Homo sapiens: one gene and its partners. The protein of the gene in region 3 purifies or fractionates together with the protein of the main gene of each other region. This does not show direct contact. Each region holds a gene or a part of one and is shown on either strand. Other genes may lie near its edges.

Region 1 (7,021 bases), on a different chromosome or scaffold from region 3:
TGTTTGAACCCCGAGGTGGAGGTTGCAGTGAGCCAAGATTGCGCCACTGCACTCCAGCCTGGGTGACAGGGCGAGACTCCGTCTCAAAAAAAAAAAAAAAAAAGAGGTCGTGAAGCTGAATGATGCCAGTTTGTTTCTTTACAAAGGGACCAGGCCTTTCCAGTAATTAGACTGCTCAAGTCTGCTATCAAGGGAACTATCAGCTTGCTCAGTGAGTCTCTATCCCTATTTGATACCCTAATTGAATAAATGCCATATTTATACTCATGCGTCTTGTACCCTGTGAGATGGGTACTGTTGATTACCCTCGTTGATGGATGAGGGACAGGCATGGAGAGGTGAAATAAGCCTGTTCAACATCACCCAGCTGATGAGAAGCAGTGGATCTAGGAATGGAGCCCGAGCAGTCTCGCTCTCAGGGCCCTGTGTGGAGTCACTGTGCTGTCCCAGCTCTGGAGACGCAGAATTCCACATGAGGAATGTGGAATTCAGCATGGGGATGACGCTGCTTCACCCAGACTTGGAGGAGCGTGGTGAATTGCCCGTGCCCATGCTCTGATGTGCCTCTCTGGCCGCTGCGTTCCTCCTTTCTCCCTGCCCTGGGTCAGTGCCTGTAAACACTGCCCTAAATCAGCAGGGCCCCCGTCACTTCTGCTTTATGCACCTTTTTCCTCAGACACATTAATACAGGGGAGTTTTGTTTCCAAGGGACCACATCCAGATGGAGGGGCTGTTTTTGGTGATCTGCACTGCCAAATGCCCGAGTGTCCCTGACAGTCGGAGCTGATGAGGCCAAGGCTGTGTGTGGTTCCTCTGGATGGCCAGAAGAGGAACCAAAACACTGAATTCTGGGCCTTCTTAAGAGTGGTGATCAGCACATTGTGATAGAAGCATATCTGGGAATGAACTTGGCCTCAAGCTTTTGGCCTTTTAATTTTTTTTTTTGTAAGCAAAAGCAGCTTTATTAAGAAAACAAAGGAATAAAAGAATGGCTACTCCACAGGCAGAGCAGCTCTTTTACATTTTTTATAGAGATGAGGTCTCACTGTGTTGCCCAGGTTGGTCTTGAACTCCTGGCCTCAAGCAGTCCTCTCACCTCAGCCTCCCAAAGTGCTGGGATGGCAGATGTGATCCACTATGCCTGGCCAAGCTTTTGGCCTTCTGACCAGCCTCATATTGTAGAATTTTTAGAAAGTCTAAGTGGTGTGGGTGAGCCTGTGGCTCCTGGGTAATTTTCCAGGTCAGGGCTGTATGGAAGCTTCCTGCCAAGAGCTTCTAGCACTGTGGGGAGTGGCTTCTGTGAGTGCGCGTTCAGGCTGTGTGTTTTTCTCTCCCCCTGCCCCTTCCCTATGGGATGTCACTGGCAGCCGGCAGCCTTTTTGGCTCCAGACCTCTAATAGAATTAGAGAGCTGGGAGGCATCGAGGGTTCATGCTCTCAGCAAGTTGTCAACCTCTTGGGGCTTCTTCAGAACATTGCAGGTCTGGCTTCTCAGATTCTTTTCTGTCTCTTCGTTTAGGCTGGGCTAAGCAGTTCCAAGCTTTCCATGTCCAAGGCCCTCCCTCTCACCAAAGTGGTTCAGAATGATGCATACACAGCTCCTGCTCTCCCTTCCTCTATTCGAACAAAAGCCTTGACCAACATGTCCCGGACACTGGTGAACAAGGAAGAACCCCCCAAAGAGCTGCCAGCTGCTGAGGTGAGGTGATGGTGGTGACTGCAGCAGTTGGGGTCAGGAGGGCTGTATGCTTATATGTACCTCATTGTGTTCCCCACAACGCCTTTGTGAGGTGGGCATTGCCACCCCCATTCTACAGATGAGCAAACCAAGACCTAGGGACTCTTACCCTCAAAGACCTTGCAGGCTAGTGGGGACGGCAGACCTGCTGAGAGATTGCGGTATCTGGTGATATGTTAGACTCTCTCAGAAGAAAGCTATTAGGAGGGCTGAGGACAGATTATCTCATTCCAGTTGGGAAGTCTGGGAAAAAGGGCTCTTTTAGCTGAGTGGGTCTGGAAGCATGAGTAGCCTTCCAGGTAGAGGCTCAGGGCCTGAGAGGCTTGCGTATTTGGGAGATGGGAGAGGGTCCATGCTTTTAGCATAGAGTGATGGGGGGTGTAGTGGACACTGAAGTTCAGGGGGCCCATTTGTGGTAACTCTCCATGGAGCTTTCCTCTGGGCCTTCCTAGTCACGTGCCTGGAGGAATTTCTGTTGTGGGAATGCTTATCAGCCATCTGGCTTCTGGTAATGCTCTTGTCTGTGTGGCAGCCTGTTCTCAGCCCATTGGAAGGCACCAAGATGACTGTGAATAATCTGCACCCTCGAGTCACTGAGGAGGACATTGTTGTAAGTACTGTGACCTACCAAACATTTAAATCTCAAACTGCCTCTGTGGCAAAGGTCTCTTAAGACCCACCCTCAGGTTTGATGACTGCTAGGACTCACCAGACTCAGCATATAGTCACGCTCAGGGCTGAGACTAATGACAGCAAAAGGATGCAGAGCAAATGGCTCATGGGGTGAAGTCGGGGGGAAACGAGGCACAAGCCTCCAGAGGCCCCTCCCAGCAGAGTCGCACAGGATGCTGGGTGCAACTCGCAGCAAGTTGTGACAATACATGTGACACCAGGGAAGCTCATTAAAGACTCAGTACCCAAAGGTTTTACTGGGGGCTGGTCACTTCGGCATTCTCTGTGTAGCATGTACTAAAATTCCAGACTCCCAGAGGGAAAGCAGCTGTTGAGCAGAAACCATGTTGTTTGCACAGTCCAGGCACAGTGAACTGTGGGGTGGCAGGAGCCCTCCTGAGATCCGAGTTCTCAGATGCCAGCCAAGGGCCACCCCTGGAATCGGACCTTTCAAACAATAGCAGTCAGCCCAGCTGCTTCACTCTTCTGCACAGCTTCTAGCCAAGGCCAGGTGCCTGGCCTGAATCTCAGAGTCAGGGGATATCTATGCTATAATGGGTCCTAAATGGGATCCTTTAGTCCCACTGGGCAGTATCCAATAGTTGTGTTTTCCTGTGTCCTTTGGAGGTATTACAAGATGATTCCAAAGTGAAAGAAGTGAGATGGATTGGTGGTATCCACCTTCCTGGTCCATCCCGTCCCACCCATGGCAGTCATGGGCAAAACCTGTCAAATGTCTGTGAGCGGGGTTCTGGATGCAGCTAGGACTTCTTTTCAACATCATTTTCATTCAGGCACCCAAAAGAGCCATTAGTTTAGAAATCCAGGCATCCTTTGAACTGTCAGATCACAAAATGAATACGTTTGGAGAATCCAGCCTCTCCCTGCAGTTAAGTCCCAGACTAACAGACTGCACTGGTCACTACATTTGTTAAATCTTTTTGTTTTGTTTTGTTTTGTTTTTGAGATGGAGTCTCACTCTGTCACCCAAGCTAGAGTGTAATGGTGTGATCTCGGTTCACTGCAACCTCTGCCTCCCAGGCTCTAGCAATTCTCCTGCCTCAGCCTCCCGAGTAGCTGGGATTAGAGGCGCCTGCCACTACGCCTGGCTAATTTTTGTATTTTCAGTAGAGGCAGGGTTTCACCATGTTGGCCAGGCTGGTCTCGAACTCGTGACCTCAAATGATCCACCCACCTCGATTTGTTTTTTTTAAAGATGGAGTCTTGCTCTGTCGCCCAGGCTGGAGTGCCAGTAGTGCGATCTTGGCTCACTGCAACTTCCGCCTCCTGGGTTCAAGTGATTCTTATGCCTCAGCCTCCCTGGTAGCTGGGATTATAGGCGTGTGCCACCACACCCGGCTAATTTTTGTATTTTTCAGTAGAGACGAGGTTTCACCATGTTGGCCGTGTTGGTCTTGAACTCCTGACCTCATGATCTGCCTGTCTTGGCCTCCCAAAGTGCTGGTATTACAGGTGTGAGCCACTGTGCCCAGCTGAGGTTAAATCTTAATTGTGAAACACACGCATGCCGTGAGATGGGTCACTCGTATCTCCTTCTCCTTTAGCAGGGACAGTACTGTGAATGGTGCACGTGAGGATGGAAATTGTAGCCTATTTTGTGTAATACTTGACAAGTCATTAAGAATTAAAGCTGATTGCCGGGTGCAGTGGCTCACGCCTGTAATCCCAGCACTTTGGGAGGCCAAGGTTGGTGGATCACCTGAGGTCAGGAGTTCGAGACCAGCCTGGCCAACATGGCAAAACCCTGTCTCTACTAAAAACAGAAAAATTCGCCAGGCGTGGTGGCACGTGCCTGTAGTCCCAGCTACTCAGGAGGCTAAGGCAGGAGAATCACTTAGAACCTGGGAGGTGAAAGTTGCAGTGAGCCGAGGTCACGCCATTGCACTCCAGCCTGGGTGACAGAGTGAGACTCTCTCAAAAAAAGAAAAGAATTAAAGCTGTTAAGGAGCGTAATAACAACTGCCATTTACTGAGTACTTGCTATGTGCCAGTCACTTTAGGCAGACTCTTGGAAGATACATAATGGTGGAAAACTAAACACCAGTCATGATCAGTGCTCAGGGGAAATTGCTAGTAATAATCACCCTCGCTTCTCTTCTACCCAAATAGGCAATGTTAAAAGGACAATGGTAATAAAATTGGAATTACACCTACTATTTATAGTTGGCCCTCCATATCTGTCGGTTCTGCATCTGTGGATTTAGCCAACCACTGAATGAAAATACTCAAATTTTTAAAAATAACAGTATGATGAGAAATAATACAAATTTTAGAAATACAGTATAACTATTTATATAGCATTTACATTGTATTTGGTATTATAAGTAATCTAGAGATGATTTAAAGTATAGTGGATGATGTGCATAGGTTATGTGTAAATACTACAGCATTTTATAGCAGGGACTTGAGCATCTACAGATTTTAGTATCTGCGAGCGGTTCTGGAACCAGTCTCCTGCAGGTGCAGAGGGGCATCTTGTTTTGATATTTACCATTAAAAACAAACCATGTCAAGGACCTTTTCATAAACCTTCTTTTGGCCCTCACAGCAACCTTGTGAAGGCAGTTGCAGGTGAAGAAATGGCGTGAGTGCTAGTCAGCCTCTGTCCATCTTCACATTTTGCTCCCTCTCTGGCCTTAGTCGTCTTGTCTGTAAAATGAGGTGGAGATCGGACTCAATGATGTGTGCAAAGCACTGCCTTAAAAATTATCTCAGTTGAGCTTTCCAGTAAAGCTGGGAAGTAAGCTAGTCCTTTTTATTTTCAGAGGAGGAAACAGGCTCAGAGAAGTTAAGTAATTTGCTAGACGTCTCATAGCAGATAGAAAGCAGAGCCTGGGGGATCAAACTCAGGTCTGACTTAGAGTGACCAACTGTCCCTGTTTTGCTGGGGACTCTCCTGGTTTCATCACTCAAAGTCTCATGTCCAGGGAAACCCTTCAGTCCAGCCAAACCAGGACTCTGGGTAGAACTCCAGAATTTGTATTTGTAACAGATTCTCAGGTGACATATTAGCAGCTGTCTTTCTTTGTATACATGTATTCTAATGACAGGGCTCTTTGCGAAAATTTTCATAACTGTTTTATCCCTGTTGAGGTGGGCACTGAAGACTTTGGTGGTGGCTTGCTGGGAGATCCCAGGTGATCCAAGGCTTGTAAACCCAGCCCCTTTCCCACTGCTGACCTCATCTGGTGCTGTGTTGAAGCCTGTGGATGTCTCCAGAGCACCACCTCGCGTGGAGCCTCCCCGCAGTCTCAGGCGCAGGGCGCATTTAGCTGCAGCGGAACCACCACACCCCAGGGCCTTCAGAGTGTGTGAGCGGCAGGTGCTGAGAAATCCTTCCCCAATCCCAACCCCTCTTGTTGTGTGCAGGAGCTTTTCTGTGTGTGTGGGGCCCTCAAGCGAGCTCGACTGGTCCATCCTGGGGTAGCGGAGGTGGTGTTTGTGAAAAAGGACGATGCCATCACCGCATATAAGAAGTACAACAACCGGTGTCTGGACGGTAAGTTAGGGAGAAAGCAGTCCCCTGACCCTCCCACTCATCTCTACTTGCTGTCAGGTAGCAGGCCTTCCAGGGGAAGTCTCTGTGAGATGGGTGGAACCCATCTCTGGGGCCTCGTCTGCACCAGGAACTGCCGTGCAGTCTCTGAGTAGTCCTGAGCTGTGGGTTACACAGGGCCCTGGATTTTCACCCAGCCCTTAAGCTTTTGAGCCCAGCAAAAAGGAAAACAGCATTTCTCCATGGATGGTTCTCTTAAGGGGTCTTGCCAGGGGAGCCAAGAGGCACAGCTGTTGCCTCCCAGATGTTGATCTGTTTAGTGCTAGGGCAGAAGTTCCTCCCAGCCCTGGAGTTTTGTCTGAATGTTGACACCTGGGTGAGAGCTGCTCCTGGTGGGTAAACAACAGACTTTATTGACTTGAGGTTCATATTTTTCATCTCCAGACAGCCTGTAGAGAAGAATTCTGTCTGCCATGCTCCTTTTCCACTCATTTGTTCTTTCAGTATGTATTGAGTGCCTACTGTGGACCAAGGCCCTGTGCTAGAAGTGGAGAAGCAGAGACTAATAAAACAATACAACAATAAAAAAAATTACAAATAAAAGACCTGGAGCCTTGGCTAAATCTTGGCACCTGGGTGAACTCCCCTGGGTGAGTCAGTGGAGTTCTGATTTGCATTTCCCCATGGCTAATGATGTTGAGCACCTTTTCATGTGCTTATTGGCCATTTGTATGTCATTAAAGAAATTAATTTTGTTTTGAATTTCTGTTCTTTTTTTGTTTTTTCTTATTTTTTGTCATATGTTTGGATGTGGAAAGATACTTATTTTCCTTTTTCTTTCTTTTTTTTATTTTTATTTTTTATTATTTTTTTATTTTTTTATTTTTTTTGAGTTTCTCTCTGTTGCCCAGGCTGGGGTGCAGTGGCGTGATCTCAGCTCACTGCAACCTCCGCCTCCCCGGTTCAAGCGGCTTTCCTGCCTCAGCCTCCCAAGTAGCTGGGACTACAGGTGCACGCCACCAAGCCCAGCTAATTTTTTTGTATTTTTAGTAGAGATAGGGTTTCACCATGTTGGCCGGGCTGGTCTCAAACTCC
Region 2 (7,847 bases), on a different chromosome or scaffold from region 3:
TGTTCTTGAACTCCTAGGCTCAAGTGATCCTCCTGCCTTGACCTCCCAAAGTGTTAAGATTACAGGCATGAGCTACAGTGCCTAGCCCACATTCTTTTCAAGTGCTCATAGAACATAAGACAGATGATTATCCTGCCATAAAACAAACCTCAACAAATTTAAAAGAACTGAAATCATACAGAGTGACATTCCCCAGCCACAATGAAATCAAGCTTGAAATCACTAACACAGAGATAACAGGAAAATCTCCAAATACTTGGAAACTAAACAACATGTTTCTAAATAATCCACGGAACAGAGAGGAAACCTTAAGGGAAATTAGAAAAAAAATAGGGAAATGAATGAAAATGAAAATATGACACACCAAAATCTGTGGATACAGCTATAGCCATGCTGAGATGTAAATTAATAGTACTAAGTCATATATTAGAAAAGGGGAAAAGTCTCAAACGAAAAAGGTAAACTCCTACCACAAGAACCTAGACAAAGTAGAGCAAAATAAAGCAAGCAGAAGAAATAATAAGGAGCAGAAACTGACAAAACTGAAAACAGAAAACACAGAAAGTCAATGAAATAAATAACTGGTTCTTTGAAAAGGTCAATAAAATTGACAAACTTCTAGCAAGATTGACAAGGGAGTGAGTGAGCAAGAGAGAGAGAGAGAGAGAGAGGAGAGAGAAGAGACGAGACACTGATACTGGAAATTTCCAATATCAGTAATGAAACGGGACAGTACTACAGACCCTGCAGACATCAAAGGGTAATATGGGAATGCTATGGTTTGAATATCCGTCCCTTCCAAAACTCATGTTGAAATTTAATTCCCAATGTATTGAGAAGTGGAGTCTTTATAAGCCCTCATAAATGGATTAATGGGTTATCATGGGAACTGGTGGCTTTATAAGAGCAAAACAGACCTCAGCTAGCACACTCAGCCCCCTGGCCCTGTGATATCCTGCACTGCCTTGGGACTCTGCAGAGTCCCCACCAGCAAGAAAGTTTTTTACCTGATGTGGCCCTGTGACCTTGGATTTCTCAGCCTCCATAACTGTAAGAAATACATCCTTTTTCTTTATAAATTACCCAGTTTCAGGTATTCTGTTATAAGCAACAGAAAACAAAGACAGGGAATACCACAAATAGCTTTACCCATATAAATTTGACAACTTTGATGAAGTGGTTAATTCCTCAAAAAACACAACCACAATAGGAAAGAGATTATTTTAACAGCTTTATAACTTTTAAATAAACTGAATTTGTCACTTAAAAACTCCAGAAAAAAAAGGAAGAAGGGAAGGAAGGGAGGGAGGGAGGAGGGAGGAAGGAGGAAGGAGGGAGGGAGGGAAGCAGGGAGTGGAGGGAATCTCCAAACCAAGATGGTTTCATTGGAGAATTCCGCCAAACATTTAATGAAGAATTAACACCAATTCTGCACATACTCTTCTAGAAAAAGAAGAAACACTTTCCAATCCATTTTATAAAGCCAGTATTATCCTGATACCAAACCAAAGGCAATACAAAAATTAAAAAAATCTATAGACCAATTTCTCTCATGAGTATAGATGCAAAAATCCTAAAGAAAATATTAGGAAATTCAGCAGTATGTAAAACACACACACACACACACACACACACACACACACCATGATAAAGTGGGGTATATTTCAGAGATGCAAGACTGGCTCAATATTTGAAAATCAATTAGAGTTGTTAATACTAACAAGCTATTAACAAGCTTAAGAAGAAAAATCACATAATCATATCATCCTCACCTTTCAGACCTCTATATGTTGAAGAATCCTAGGACTCAGTCTCTTTTTACACCTTATTCCGTTATGACTCTCACATTTTTATCTCTAACCCAGATAGCTCTTCCTTGAATTCCAGACCCATAAACCCAACTGCCCCTTAGACATCTATACTCAGATAGGCATTTCCAAATGGACATGTCCAAATACAAATGCTTGCTCTTACTCTCCAAACCCACTCTTTTCTGTAATTCAGTAAATGGAAGCGCTATTCTTATAGTTGCTTAGGCCAAAACCCTTGGAGCTATCTCAACTCTCATATGTCTTTCACACCCCATATCCAATCTATCAGCGGATCCTGTTACCTCTTCCTCTAAAATATCCCCAGAACTGTCCCTTTCTTACCACTTCCACAGATACCACCCTGGTTTGAGTTATCCTTTCACCTGGGTTACTACAACAGCTGCCAAACTGGTCCTTCCTGCTTCTACCTTTGCACTCTTACTGTCTTATTTTCTACCTAACAGCCACAATGCTCCTTCTTTGTGCAAAACTGCCCAGTGGACTTCATTTCATTCAGAGTAACATCTAAAGTCTATACTATTGCCTACAAGTCACCATGTGATGCAGTCCCTTCGTACTTTTCTGAACTAATTTCCAGCCACCCTTCTAGTTCATATCACTCCAGCTTTATTGTCCTCTCTGCTGTTGCTCCAAAATGCCAACAATGGTATAAACTTGGTTTTCCCTCTTCCTGGAACAATGGCATATGGCTTGTCTCTCAAATGACATCTTATCAATGAGGCCTTCTCTGAGAAGCATAAGTAAAAGACTACCCACCTACACATATACATTCCTTATCCTCCTTATCTCCTTGATTTTTATTGAAGTTACTTACCACTTTCTGACTTATTCTAAACTTGCATGTTTGTTTTTCTATCTTTCTCAGTAGAAAGTAAGTTCCTGAGAACGTGGATTTTGTCTGTTAGCTTAGAAGAGTGCTTTGGACATAGGTGCTGAAAAATTATTTTCCGAATGAATGAATAAACTATTGGTTCAGGAGGCAAGAATTTGGGATCAGACATAAGATAACCCTAATTTGACTCCTGGCTCTGCTATTTCCTAACTATGTCCAAGTACATAGGGTACTTAACCATGCTTTACATTTTCTCGTCTATCAAATAGTGATTGTAATAATTTCAACTCCTAAGACTGATGTAAGAATTAAATTTAAAAAGTATGTAATGTGCTTAATAGACAGTGACTTGGTATAAAAGTGCTCAGTATATGACAGTGTTATTAATATGGAAAGATGATCTAGATTTCGACACAAAAGCCCTCAGTTATGACTAGATACTCACTGTATGATTTTAGGTTACTCACCTCTTTTACACTAACTCACTTGATAAATCAGGAACTGGGGCCAAAAAGATGGCTAAGTTGCAGCCCCTTCCCTCAAGTCTTAGTAATGTGATCTTGGGTAGGTCACTTAACCTCTCTGAGCCTGTTTCCTACGCTGTCCAAAGGGGGATAATATAATACCTCACAGCTTTGTTGTGAGGATTAAATGAGTTACTGTGTGGGAATTGTGTCTAGCACATAGTAACCTCTCACTGCGTTAGCTATGATTATGATTCCAGTCTGGAGGAAGGGTAAAAGCATGTAAGCAAAGAACTGCAATACAGTGCAATAAGAGCAAAAGCAGGCATCAACTAGAAGAACGTCTCCTAAACTAGAGTCTGCCCACAACTAGGAAGTTATACCACGATCAGGAAATTTTAAAACCCTCTTATGTCTATAACTTAACTCCCTACCATCACCCCCGTGGCAGTAAGAAAAACAAAATTTCTCTGCTGCTTTGATACCTGGGATTTAAAACTTAAAAAAAAAATAGGGTCAAGGTTTAGAGTCTCAGATAGTGTTTTGTTTTGTTTCAGAGAAGAGTCTCGCTCCATCGCCCAGGCTGGAGTGCAGTGGCACGATCATAGCTCACTGTAACCTCTAACTCCTGGGCTCAAGGTATCCTCTCGCGTAGCTGGAACTGCAGGTGAGCGTCACCATGCCTGGCTAATTTTCGCTGTTACCCAGGCTGGTCTTGAACTCCAGTCCTCAAGCTATCCTCTCGCCTCGGCCTCCCAAAGGGTTGGGATTACAAGCAAGAGACGTTGCGCCAGGCCTCAAATAGTGTGTCTCAACATGAGGTCAACAGACACATTGGGAAGGCTAAGTTAGTTCCCTCCACCTTTTCCCTAAAGTTAACACCTCACTTAAGTTCGAAAAAGTCAACTGGACCCGCAGACGGCAAAAGCAGCACGTAATAATACCCTGAGTGAGAACCCACTTAAGAGCCGAGAGCCCAAATGTGTGTTTCATGACGGCGCTGTTACAGACTAAAAGGTCAAAACAGGACATTAAAGGGTGCTCCGGGGGGCTGAGTAGGAGCTCACCAGGTGAGAAAGGGGATGTCACTTTCGGACAGAGAACGAGCGCCAGGGCGTGGAGGCGTGAAAAGGGCACGTGGGTGGCTTGGAAGAACCAAAACTAAGTGTTTTGGGGGACAGCCAGAGAGCCGAACACATATGGAGGAAAGATGCGGCCTGGGGCCCGCCAGATTAGAAAGGAAATCCCCCTCCCATATCCAGATCATGATCTCTCAGACTCAATGTCCCCTCAGGATACCCCTCTACAGGGTCCCAGCTGCTGGGCTCCCTCTGGTTCCCGCCACTCTTCCCTTACCTCGTCTTCCAGCCTTTCTCTCACTCTCCCGCCTCCTCTGCCTCGCCGGAAGTGACGCGCTAAGTAGCGCGCCGTATCGCGCCAGAAAGGTTCCGAGGGAGCGGGAAAAAGGGTTCCGGCGAGATCCACTGCGCCGGTGTGCAGGCTCGAGCGGTCAAAGCTCTTTCCGGGGGCCCGGGGAACTACTCTCCTTGCCTCGCTCTGTCTCCTTCGAAGTGCTCTGCGCGAGGTTCAGAGCGGCCGCCGCCTCCAAAGGGACGGTTTTCTAGAGCTCCGACGCCTCTCGGTGCCCCTCTGCTCCGGCCCTTGCCCTTTGACCTCGCTCTCGCGGCAGGGTGAGAGGTCGGGTGGCCATCTTGTGGCGGCGGCGCGGGCGGCTGTTACTGCGGAGACCCATCCCCTCCCCCTTCTCGCACCCCTGGCAGTCTGTCAGTCGGTAAAAAGTCCCGCAGCCTGTCAGGTGAGGCCCCGGCCTCGTGCCGTCGCTCTTCCCGCCGCACTGGGCGGCCCAGGCCGCTCCCTGCCGGGCCTCACTGCCGCCACCATGTCCTCCTTCTCTGAGTCGGCGCTGGAGAAGAAGCTCTCGGAGCTGAGCAACTCTCAGCAGAGCGTGCAGACCCTGTCCCTTTGGCTCATCCACCACCGCAAGCACGCGGGACCCATCGTCTCCGTGTGGCACCGCGAGCTCCGCAAAGGTAAACACCAAATCCCCACCCCCTGGACGGTCCCCGGATTGTCCTCTCGCCCACATACAACCTAGGCCCCTCTAAGCCTCTTCATTGAGCCTTGCTTTCCAGGCCTGATCGAGCTTCTGAGATGGGAGACAAAGTTAGCCCCATTTCTCGAAGAAGGAAACTGAGGCCCGGGAAGGTTTAAGGTACTTGCCTGAGGGTCCACGGACTGGGACTCAGGTGTCCAGACTTCTAGTTCATCAAGCCATTTTCCCTTCAGTTTCCCCCTGACATTTGTGGCTGTTATTATCTCGGCTGCATTCACTGCCGTACTGGCCCTAGCATGTCGGGCCCAGTGCTGGGTATTTGGAGTAAAAGCCAGTGGGCTCCGGAGTCAGACTCTGCAGATCGAGTCCTGGCTCAGCTATTTGCCAGCTGAATAATACTGGGAGAGTTTCTTCATCTCCCTGTGTCTCCGTTTTCTCATCTGTAAGAGGGAGGCAAGGATAGCTACCCCTTACAAAGCCTTTACTTCATACCAGTCACTATACTAAGACCTTTGTGTGTATCCTCGCACTCAGTCCTTAGAACAGCCCTGTGAAGTAGGTAGTCTCTCCCATCTTAGGTTAAGGGGCCACCCAGACCTTACCTCTCCTCTCCTCTCCTCTCTCATGCAGTTGTCATTGATTTCAGGCCCTGCTCAGGTTCTGACAGACAATTCATTGAACTCATTCTGTTATGTGCCAGGCACTGGCTTGGACACTTGCAGCATGTTGCCTCTGCCAACTGCCTAGAATTTAAGCCTGACTTTGCCGCCTTACTGACCCCAGCAACTTAACCTGTCTGTGCCTTAATTTTCTTATCTACAGAATGGATAACTGAAATTTACTATGTCTTTATTACATGCGAAGTGCAGTACTGATATCTTTACATACATTGCCATTAAAAAAAATTCTCGGAGCCCTATGAAGTAGGAACTTTGCAGAAGAGGAAAAACTGAGACTCATCTCGTGGTGAGGAGTAAACGGGATAATCCAAATGAACATTTAGCATGGGGTGAGGCACAGTGTAGGCATTCAGCAGATTATGGTGAGATGAGACTTTTGATTACTCACTGTGAGGCATGGTCTTTACCTTCAAGTTGCTTACAGTCTGGTGGGGAAAGATGGACACCTACACTCCCGGATGAGTTTCATAATGGAAGACTGAAGAAATGAAGCTCAGAGCTGCTCCAGACACCCTATATGTGGTAGGCCTTTATAGCGAAGTGGCTTTACAAGTGTTCTATACTATCTGTGAGTTGGGGACACCACAGATGTCCTGCTCTACAGGTGAGGAAACTGAAGTGGCTAAGTGGTATTTTCAAGGCTTTCGAACTGAACAGGCTCAGACTACAACAGGCTGGCAAACACCAAAATCTTCATGATTTTTTTCAGGAGACCCAGTTCTAGCCCTTTAGCAGGGACTGCCCCCAAATATCGCGTACTGTACTGAGATAGGGATCCCCTCAGCCCTTCGGGCAGTTCCGGGAAGAGGTAGAGCCTGGAGTTTATGGGGCCTTCTTCATGTACCCCACTGTGCCATTCAGAAATTATTTGAAGAGTGTGCTGAAATGTGAATTGCCACTGTACAGAATTCTATTGGGTGGGACCTCAAGAGGCAGTTAAAGTCCATCTCAGGTGTCATTTTTTTTGTTTTTTTTTTTTTGAGATGGGGGTCTCGCTCTGTCACCCAGGCTGAAGTGCAGTGGTGCGATCTCAGCTCACTGCAAGCTCCACCTCCCGGGTTCATGCCATTCTCCTGCCTCAGCCTCCCGAGTAGCTGGAACTACAGGGGCCCGCCACCACACCCAGCTAATTTTTTGTATTTTTAGTAGAGATGGGGTTTCACTGTGTTAGCCAGGATGGTCTTGATCTCCTGACCTTGTGATGCCCCCGCCTCGGCCTCCCAAAGTGCTGGTATTACAGGTGTGAGCCACCACGCCTGGCCAAGTGTCACTTCTTTTGTGACACTTTCTTGATTCCTTGCCTCACCCTAGTTGAGTTACTGAAAAAAAGCAAATTAGAGAGTACATTTGTGTATGAAGCTCCGTTATCCCTAATCTTACGTGGTAAAGCCTTATGTTGCAAGTAGGCTAGCATTATTATCCTCATTTTATAGATGAGATGATAAAGGTATAGAGGGATTAAGTGCCTTGTCCACAGACATACAGCTAGGACATGAGCCCAGGGCTGCCTGATGCCAAAATGTGTTCTTTTTCATGTACTCAGTGCCTCAATGCATTTAATAAGTGAAGGTGGTCACCTGACTGCAATCAAACTGTGGTGCTTTCATTTATTAGAATTAATGAGTGCCTCCCACCCCATCATACCAGTTTAGCATTTAATTTGTTCCTACTAGCTGTTCATTTGAACTGGTTACATCTTTGTCATTAGATTATGTTTTGAGAGAGGAACTAGACCTTCTTGTTTATTTGCAACACCACAGGATATCGCGTGGTGCCTGTTATATAGTTTAAAAATAGGAATTAAATCATGGTCTCTGATAGAATTTTCGTGGTTGAGTAAAGGATCTAAACAGCGCTATCCAATACAACTTTCTATGATAGCAGCATAAAGGATATAAACAGCGCTATCTAATACAATTTTCTGTGATAATAGCAATGTTTTCTATCTGTGCCATCCAACAGGTA
Region 3 (7,879 bases):
GGAACTGGGGTCAGCAATGGGAGAGTTAACTTTTCACTGAATATCCTATTGTATCTTTTAAATTTTGCATTGTGCTATGCAAATGATAGTACATAAATAAATGAGGTAATGAAACTTTACTAATAAAATGCCAATTGATTTCATAAAACTTTATAATCAAAAATTAGAATACCTTTAACAATAATTTTCAGTCTTGTTCATAGATTTTTTTTGTTTTTTGGAGGGGGAAAGTCTGCAGAAACTGTTCAGTCCTATTCAAACAATTATTCAGTAATCGTTAGGTGCTAGTGATGCAAATATAGGAAGACATGAGACTAAAAGAGCTCACAATCTAGTAGACAGAATGAACATGTATTCAAATAGTCTCAATATAAAAAGTTACTTCTCAAAGCTTCTTTAATAGCAACTGAGTATAAACCCAGCATTACAGAGACTGCCTTCTGGGTTAAATCAGCAAAAATGACAGCCCAATAAGAAAAGGATAGGGAAGTGTGACCATGATTGAATGTAGGAAGCAGGTGAAAGTAAGACCAGAGACCAATGTGAGTAGGCTAGGCTCTGGCCAAGTGACAGTGATGAAGAAAGAGCCGTAGCTTAACGATTAACAGCACTAGAATTATCCAGCATGATTCTGAATAGCTGACAGTATTATGTAATAAAGCAAGAAAAAAGGAGCAGGTATGAGTGATTAAGCAAATATTTTATATAGACTACTGATAAACCAAAAACATTCCCACACTCTGCTATTCTTTTAAAAAATAATAAGCTCTTATTTTAGCAATTATATAAGATATGACATTTTATGGTAGCTGGAGATGAGACACAATCAGTGGGTTTTGCAATAATGTTAGAAGTAAAGGGATGAAGTATTTAATATTATGTTGTTAATTTTTTCATGTACATTGTGGTAAAATATTATTCCTACTACAGAGTAAAATATAAATAAGATAATGGTATTTTTCATCTTGATAACATCTTTTCATCTGGAGATCTTAAAGCATTTGCAAATGTTCATTAATCCCCAATATCCTGATCAGATACACTAAAGAAGTAAACTGGGGTACAGAGAAGGTGAACAGCTCAAGGTCAATTGATAAACCAATAACAGATTTGGATAAAGATATACATTCTGGTTCTTGCTCCAAGTTCTGAGTTATAAGTCATATTCCCATTATAAAATGTTTCTTCTCTTAAAAGAACTGCAGAAGTTGTTTATCTTTGATGTTAAATAACAAATGATTAAATAGAGTTCAATAAATAGAAAACAAATGTAAAAACCAAAGAAATAGAACTGGGATGATTTTGTATCATAAAGATTCTAGTCTCATTTGTTAGAACAAAATGAGAAAAAACATTATTAAATTCTAGGGTTGGGAGGGCCTATTTATTGTCTATATTTTCCCAGACATTGTTCTATTTTTCTATGGACTAAGTTATTATGTCTAATACCTATTTTAGTCCTTATACAATCTTCCCTACAATGCAGCTATTTTAATTAACAGAACAAATGTATGATTGAACATCAAGGAAATAACCAAAACCATAATTAGGCATGCAGTACAGTATATTATAAATAATTATGATTCTTACATGGGAACAGAATCCTCTACATTTTATAGGGAACTGAAGATTATAATAAATCCATATAGTATCATAATGAACTTAATGATTATTTACTGTAAAAAACATGAAAAAAGGAAAATTTAAGTGTTTAGCACTACATACAATCCACAGCACTTTTCAGAAACAACTTCTGTATTTTATTCTATTAAAAAGCTATTAATTCTTAATATTACTTTTGATTTATTGTAGAACAAGACTCATTAGTTCCAAGCAGAATTTAGTAAGATTGAAACTCTTTTTTAAAAATTTAAATTATTACATGCTGAATTTTAATCAGTGAAACCAAAGGTTTTCTTCCTAAATGCCTACCTGCGCATTGGCTTTCCTTCCATGCACCATGAAAAGTACCCTTCACCACACTCTAAAGCCGAACCTAAGACAACAGAAAAGCAGGAACTTAATAAAAGCTATTTCTGATCTTTACAGTAACAATCTTTATATAATCATTTCACTCATTTCGTCAGTTATCAAGAGTTTCATATCCTATTATACCACAGGCCTTCTGCAGATGCACAATAACTTAATCTAGTACATTTAAGATTACCATCCTTACTCTGCATGCTAAAACGATTAAAGTAAAGGTGAGGGAAAGTATGCTAAATAGTCCCGACTGTTAGGTCAGTCTTGTTTCTCTTCAAAAAGTGCTTGGAGATATTTAACTGTGATCTCGACATCAAGTATATTTACAGAACAAGCACCAGATACCCACAGCAGTACTAACCTGATAGATCACATAGGGTACACGAGGCTTTAATAACGAATCTGAAGATTGTTAACTTGTCCCGAAGTGACAGGAGGAGGAGGCGTCTGCATTTGCCTTTACAAACAACTCCGCTTCCGACAGTCCAGGGAGCTTGAACAGGGCAGGGAAAGTATGGCTCCAGACTAACACTCTTTACAAGCATTTCCTTCAGTCCCCGATACAATGTTCACTACCCACGTAGCAGGATTTCGCCAGGTCCCGAGGGTTAAATGGGGGCGCACGTACTTTCTTCCTTCCCTGAATTCCAAACACTGTCTGGGGAAGCTGTCCAGGATGCGAAACCCCAGCACCACCAGGCAGGACAAAGCCCGGGGCCTCCTCTGGCTCCCGAGATAGGCTGTCAGCCAGCGAGAGCGCACTCTGGCGCTCCGCGAGGCCCGGCCCCAGCGCCCCAACAGTCTCTTCTCGGCGCCGACTGACAGGCGACCGACCTGACCCCATGGGGCAGCTCAGCAACTTGGGACCACATATCTGCGAAGCGAGCCCTGGGGCGCTGTCCGCTGTCCCCTGCTCTAAGGTGACTGGCTCACTTACCGGCTCTGACACTTTCTTCTCTGCAGCAGCCTCCTCCGTCTACTCCGCCCTCCACTCCTCTCTGCCTCCTCCTCCACCGCCGCTAACGCAGGCAGGATGCCGCTCGTAGAGCTATTTCCTTTCCCTTCACCGGCCCATATCCAGAAGCAGGAAGTAGTCCTATTCTTAAATCGTTCCCGCAGGAACCCACATAATCCGCCAAGGGGTTCCGGTGCGGCTCCGGAAGTAGTCGTGCCCTTTGCTGGGGCATTCAGGTAACCTCAGAGGTTGTTTATCCTCGTGGGGGTTCCTTGTATCCCAAGAGTAACCATTTTTAGAATTCACTGCGGAACTGGCAGTATTTGAATACTGAAGCCTCCTCTTTTCTTCTTTGTTTTCGCCAGCAAAGGCAGTAAAGGGTAGTCACAGAAAGCTAAGAATTTGTATTTCTTTTTAGTTGGTGGGTCTCCTTTTGGCACAATGTTCCTAATTGTGGATTGAATTATTGCATGCACACATGGGTTGGCATGTATCTGTCAGGCCTCTACTATGTGCAAGGTGCAGAAGTTAGATAGACAGACCAGAGATAGACCTTATCCTCCAGATTTCCCACGGTCAAACTTTCAGGACACCAGGATTTTATCCAGGCTCTAAGGCTGTGTTAGTCTGCCCTTTCTACTTAGTATTCACCACCAGACACTTCACCAAACACATCTTCTGTGGATTCACTTTAATGTTAAGGAGGGAAGAGTATATTTTCTTAAAAAAATTTTTTTTCAGTAGCAAGCAGAGCCAAAAAAGTATATTTTTAAAATTATCTTTTCCTCCAGATTTTCCCATAGCACACAGCCACCTGATTTTTACCGTATATTAATATTTAGAAAACAAGTGATACAAGTGTAAGGTGGGGATTACAATTTCAGGAATATCAGAGAAAGACTGTTGCTGATTTCCTGGTAAGTATACTAGGCTAAGTATTAACCAGATTTTCTTTAGCTGTTCTTTATGTAGAATCTACACAGGTGTGTCCAGTTGTTTCTGAGGGGAAAGGATACCTCTTGTTAATTAGCTTGTAGTGGAAAATACATGGCCTTTAGATCCAGATATAGTGGCCCAGTGGATTCTTCTTGCCTGCTGCCCAGATACAGATGATTTATCAAGGTATAGGGATTGCAATGGAGAAAGAGTTTTACACAACATCGAGTGGAAAAATGGAAGAAGTTTTATTATTACTCAAATCAGTTATATTATTACTCAAATCGGCCTCCTGGAGCATTTGGGGGCTAGGTTTCTTTTCAAAGGTAGTCTGGGGAAAGGGGTAGGGGTGGCTAGGCAATGGGTGCTTGCTGCTGACTGGTGCAGTCATAGGGGTATGGGAGATGGTCCTCCTGCCTACTGAGTTGTTTCTGGGTGGAGCCACAGGAACAGTTGGTGGGTCCAGGTGGAGCCATCAGTAGTCAAACATGCAAAAAACTTAAAAATATACCCAAAAAGGCCAATCCTAGATTCTACAATAGTGATGTTATCTGTAGGAGTAATTGGGGAAGTTGCATATCTTGTGACCTCTGGAATAATGGCTGGCAATCACTTATGTCTACACTTAACAGAATTCAGGCTCATCTATCCCCGTTGTCTGGTGGTCTCTCATTAGCTTTACAAAGGCAATTGAGTTTTGGGGAAGGACTGTAATTATTTAAACTATTAAACTAAATGTCTCCCAAAGTTATCTTGGCTTAAGCCCAGGAATAATTAAGGACAGACTGAAAGCTAAAGGCAAGATGGGGTTTGGCTAGATCAGATCTCCTCCACTGCTATAATTTTCTCACTGATAGAATTTTTGCAAAGGGGGTTTCAGTTTGCAAAGGCGATTTCACGGATACACATAGGTACAAATCCTAGACCTGTAACTGACTAGCTTTGTGATCTTATTGAAAATTTTTACTGCATGTGTATATGTGATATATATACATATGCAGTAAAATGATTTCTTTTCCATATTTTAAAACTTTTCATAAATGGTATCAAAGCATATGTATTCTTTTGCAACTTCCATTTTCCACTCAACATTCTGTTTGTAAGATTTGTCCATGTTGATCAATGAAGGTCCAATTCAGTGATTCTCAAAGTGTTGTCCTGGACCAGCAGCATCAACATCACTTGGAAAATGCTAACCCTTGAGCCCCATTACAGACCTATTGAATCAAAAACTGAAGGTGGGCCCCAGTAATCTGTGTTCTAACAAGTTCTCCAGGTGATTATAGTGCATGGTAAAATTTGAGAACTACTGCACTAATTTATTTATTTTCACTGCTTTATAGTATTCTATTATATGAATATACCATAGATTTTTTAAAACATTTTTTTCTGCAGATGGATATTTTGACTATTTCCAGTTTTCTCCATTACAAACAGTGCTACAATGTAAATTCTTGCATATACCTCCTTGTGTACACCTGTAGGTGTTTCTTTGGGGTGTGCACGCAGAAGCAAAATTGCTGGGTTGTATGCTATGCACAGCTTCAACTGTATTAGCACTAGTCAAATTGCTCTCTAAAGTCATTATTCTATTTCAGTAATAATAATACTAGCAAATACTTATGTAGCATGTTATAGTAACTCATCAATACTCACACTAGTCCTCTCGAGGTAGGATCTATTATCATCATTCCAGTTTCACAGATGGCACCAAGATGTTATGTAAGTTGCCCAAAGTCACACAGCTAGTTATGAAGTAGAGCAATAACTTGAAACCATACACAATGGCTCTAGAGTCTGTGCTTTCAGCTACAGTGCTGTGTTGTCTCTCCATTACAAGTGTTTGAGGGTTTTTGTTGGTCTATATTATCATCACAGTTGGTGTTTTCCAACTTTAAATTTGTTTTTGCCAATTGGTTGGGTATAAAATGGTAATTCACTGTGGTTTAAATGTTTATTTCTCTCATTACTGTTCAAACATTTTTCATATGTGAAAGTGGCATTCAGATTTCCCTTCTGTGAATTGCTTATTGTAAAAGATACCTTCAAAGTGACTCCTATTTTTTCCGTAATATGAATTAAACTATTTTTATAATTCATAGTATAGGTATGAAAATGTTACTATATGGTATAAAAATGTTACTAAAAATGCTGCTAACCAAAGACTGATTTTAAAACTCCTGTCCAGGATAAGAGCAGTCCCTCCTATTTTTGTATATCTGTGATTCACTCCCCAACCCACTGCAATCTGGTTTGTGCTTCTGCTACTCTGTTTCTTTTTGAAGTGGAGAAGTTCAGTGTGAATCAACCCTTTTTATTTATGTCAAGACCTAGAGAACTCCATTTAGAGATGTGTTTATGGTAAACCTGGCATTTGCAGTAATTACAGTTTTTCTGCCACCTGAGTAAGACTATGCCCTTCGGGAGCCTGAATTTCTAGTGGAAAATACACATGAAATAGATTTTATTTAGATTGGGTGTGTGAAAGGAAAATATCTTGGGCCCCCAAAATCACTAAGCTAAAGGGAAAAGTCAAGCTGGGAACTGCTTAGGGCAAACTTGCCTCCCATTCTATTCAAAGTCACCCCTCTGCTCACTGAGATAAATGCATATCTGATTGCCTCCTTTGGAAAGACTAACAGAAACTTAAAAGAATGCAACAATTTGTCTCTTATCTACCTATGACCTGGAAGCCTTCTCCCTGCTTTGAGTTGTCCCACCTTTCCAAACGGAACCAAAGTTCATCTTACATATGTTGATTGATGTTTCATGTCTCCCTAAAATGTGTAAAACCAAACTGTGGTCTGATCACCTTGGGCACATGTCATCAGGATCTCCTGAGGCTGTGTCACAGGTGCATCCTCAACCTTGGCAAAATAAACTTTCTAAATTAACTGAGACCTGTCTCAGATTTTCGGGGTTCACAGGTATGAGGTAGTGACAACAGCCAAATAATTCTTTTCAGGGGTTGCTGAGCTTACCTTATAGTTTTTCAATCAAAAATTATATCTTGTTTCCAATGTATAAAATACAGTGGTTGGACCTAAGGTTTAGTTGTAGGTGAGACCCACAGGGCCCATTGTTTGTGGAATTTTCATTCTTCTTCTTTTTTTTTCTTTTTAAGTAGGGTCTCAATCTGTTACCCAGGCTGGAGTGCAGTAGTGCAATCACAGCTCACTGTTGCCTCTGCTTCCTGGGCTCAAGTGATCCTCTCCCCTTGTTACAGTAGGTGGCTAGCCAGGCATGTGCAAGGCAGGAGAGGGCTTCTCCCGCACCTCACCAGGAATGTCAGGTGACCATCGGGTGATGGTCAGGCAGTTGTCACGCTGCCTCTCTAATATAATAATTGGTTGCAAACAGCACCAGGGAAAGGCAGTTTCCCAGTAGATAAAAACACCTGAAACTGGTGGCAGCGTCTCAATAAGATCTCAGGAATTGGGTGAGTGGGCTCCAGCATGTGCATTAAAGGGCAAAATGGCAGAGTTTAGCTGGTATATGACCTTCCAGGGGCATTCCACCAGAATGGGAAGAACGCCTCAAGTGAGCATGTGTACAACTCCAGTAAACACACTCTGCATGCTCCCCTCCCAGGCACTAGCAGGCCATTGCACATGCGGACAACCCACCCCAAGGGAAGAATCAGGGCAGAAGGGATGCAAGACCCCAGAAGCATGCCAGCATATAAAATGCTAAGTCAGAAGGTCAAACTTCACACTTGTTTTCAAGTTGCCTGCTTGGACCTGTTCCACATGTACTTTCCTTCCTTTGACTCCTGCTCTAAAACTTGCCTCCATCTCTTCTGCTTCATGCCCCTCAGTCAAATTCTTTCTTCTGAGGAGGCAAGAATTGAGGCTGCTGCAGACCCATATGGATTCACCACCGGTAACAACCTCAGCCTCTTCAGTAGCTGGGACCACAGGAGTGTTCCACAATGCCCAGCTATTTTGTTTGTTTGTTTGTTTTGTAGAGACGAGTTCTCACTATGTAGCCCAGGCTGGTCTTGAA

The links. The genes of interacting proteins can lie anywhere in the genome.
Region 1: the proteins of KLHL20 (region 3) and POLDIP3 purify together in Homo sapiens (affinity purification with mass spectrometry; 3 studies listed by BioGRID and IntAct, with this or other methods). This does not show direct contact.
Region 2: the proteins of KLHL20 (region 3) and RPRD1B purify together in Homo sapiens (affinity purification with mass spectrometry; 2 studies listed by BioGRID and IntAct, with this or other methods). This does not show direct contact.

Annotation. Positions count from the first base shown.
Region 1 is NC_000022.11:42,590,863-42,597,883, reverse strand, and holds part of POLDIP3 (polymerase delta-interacting protein 3), read left to right. Parts: intron 1-1,518; coding exon 1,519-1,698; intron 1,699-2,269; coding exon 2,270-2,347; intron 2,348-5,799; coding exon 5,800-5,929; intron 5,930-7,021. UniProt on the Homo sapiens protein: Is involved in regulation of translation. Is preferentially associated with CBC-bound spliced mRNA-protein complexes during the pioneer round of mRNA translation. Contributes to enhanced translational efficiency of spliced over nonspliced mRNAs.
Region 2 is NC_000020.11:38,028,920-38,036,766, forward strand, and holds the start of RPRD1B (regulation of nuclear pre-mRNA domain-containing protein 1B), read left to right. Parts: upstream 1-4,826; 5' UTR 4,827-5,028; coding exon 5,029-5,179; intron 5,180-5,186; exon of another isoform or gene 5,187-6,486; intron 6,487-7,847. UniProt on the Homo sapiens protein: Interacts with phosphorylated C-terminal heptapeptide repeat domain (CTD) of the largest RNA polymerase II subunit POLR2A, and participates in dephosphorylation of the CTD by RPAP2. Transcriptional regulator which enhances expression of CCND1.
Region 3 is NC_000001.11:173,710,120-173,717,998, reverse strand, and holds the start of KLHL20 (kelch-like protein 20), read right to left. Parts: upstream 3,019-7,879; 5' UTR 2,921-3,018; exon of another isoform or gene 2,529-2,920; coding exon of another isoform or gene 2,345-2,528; intron 1,997-2,344; coding exon of another isoform or gene 1,956-1,996; coding exon 1,933-1,955; intron 1-1,932. UniProt on the Homo sapiens protein: Substrate-specific adapter of a BCR (BTB-CUL3-RBX1) E3 ubiquitin-protein ligase complex involved in interferon response and anterograde Golgi to endosome transport.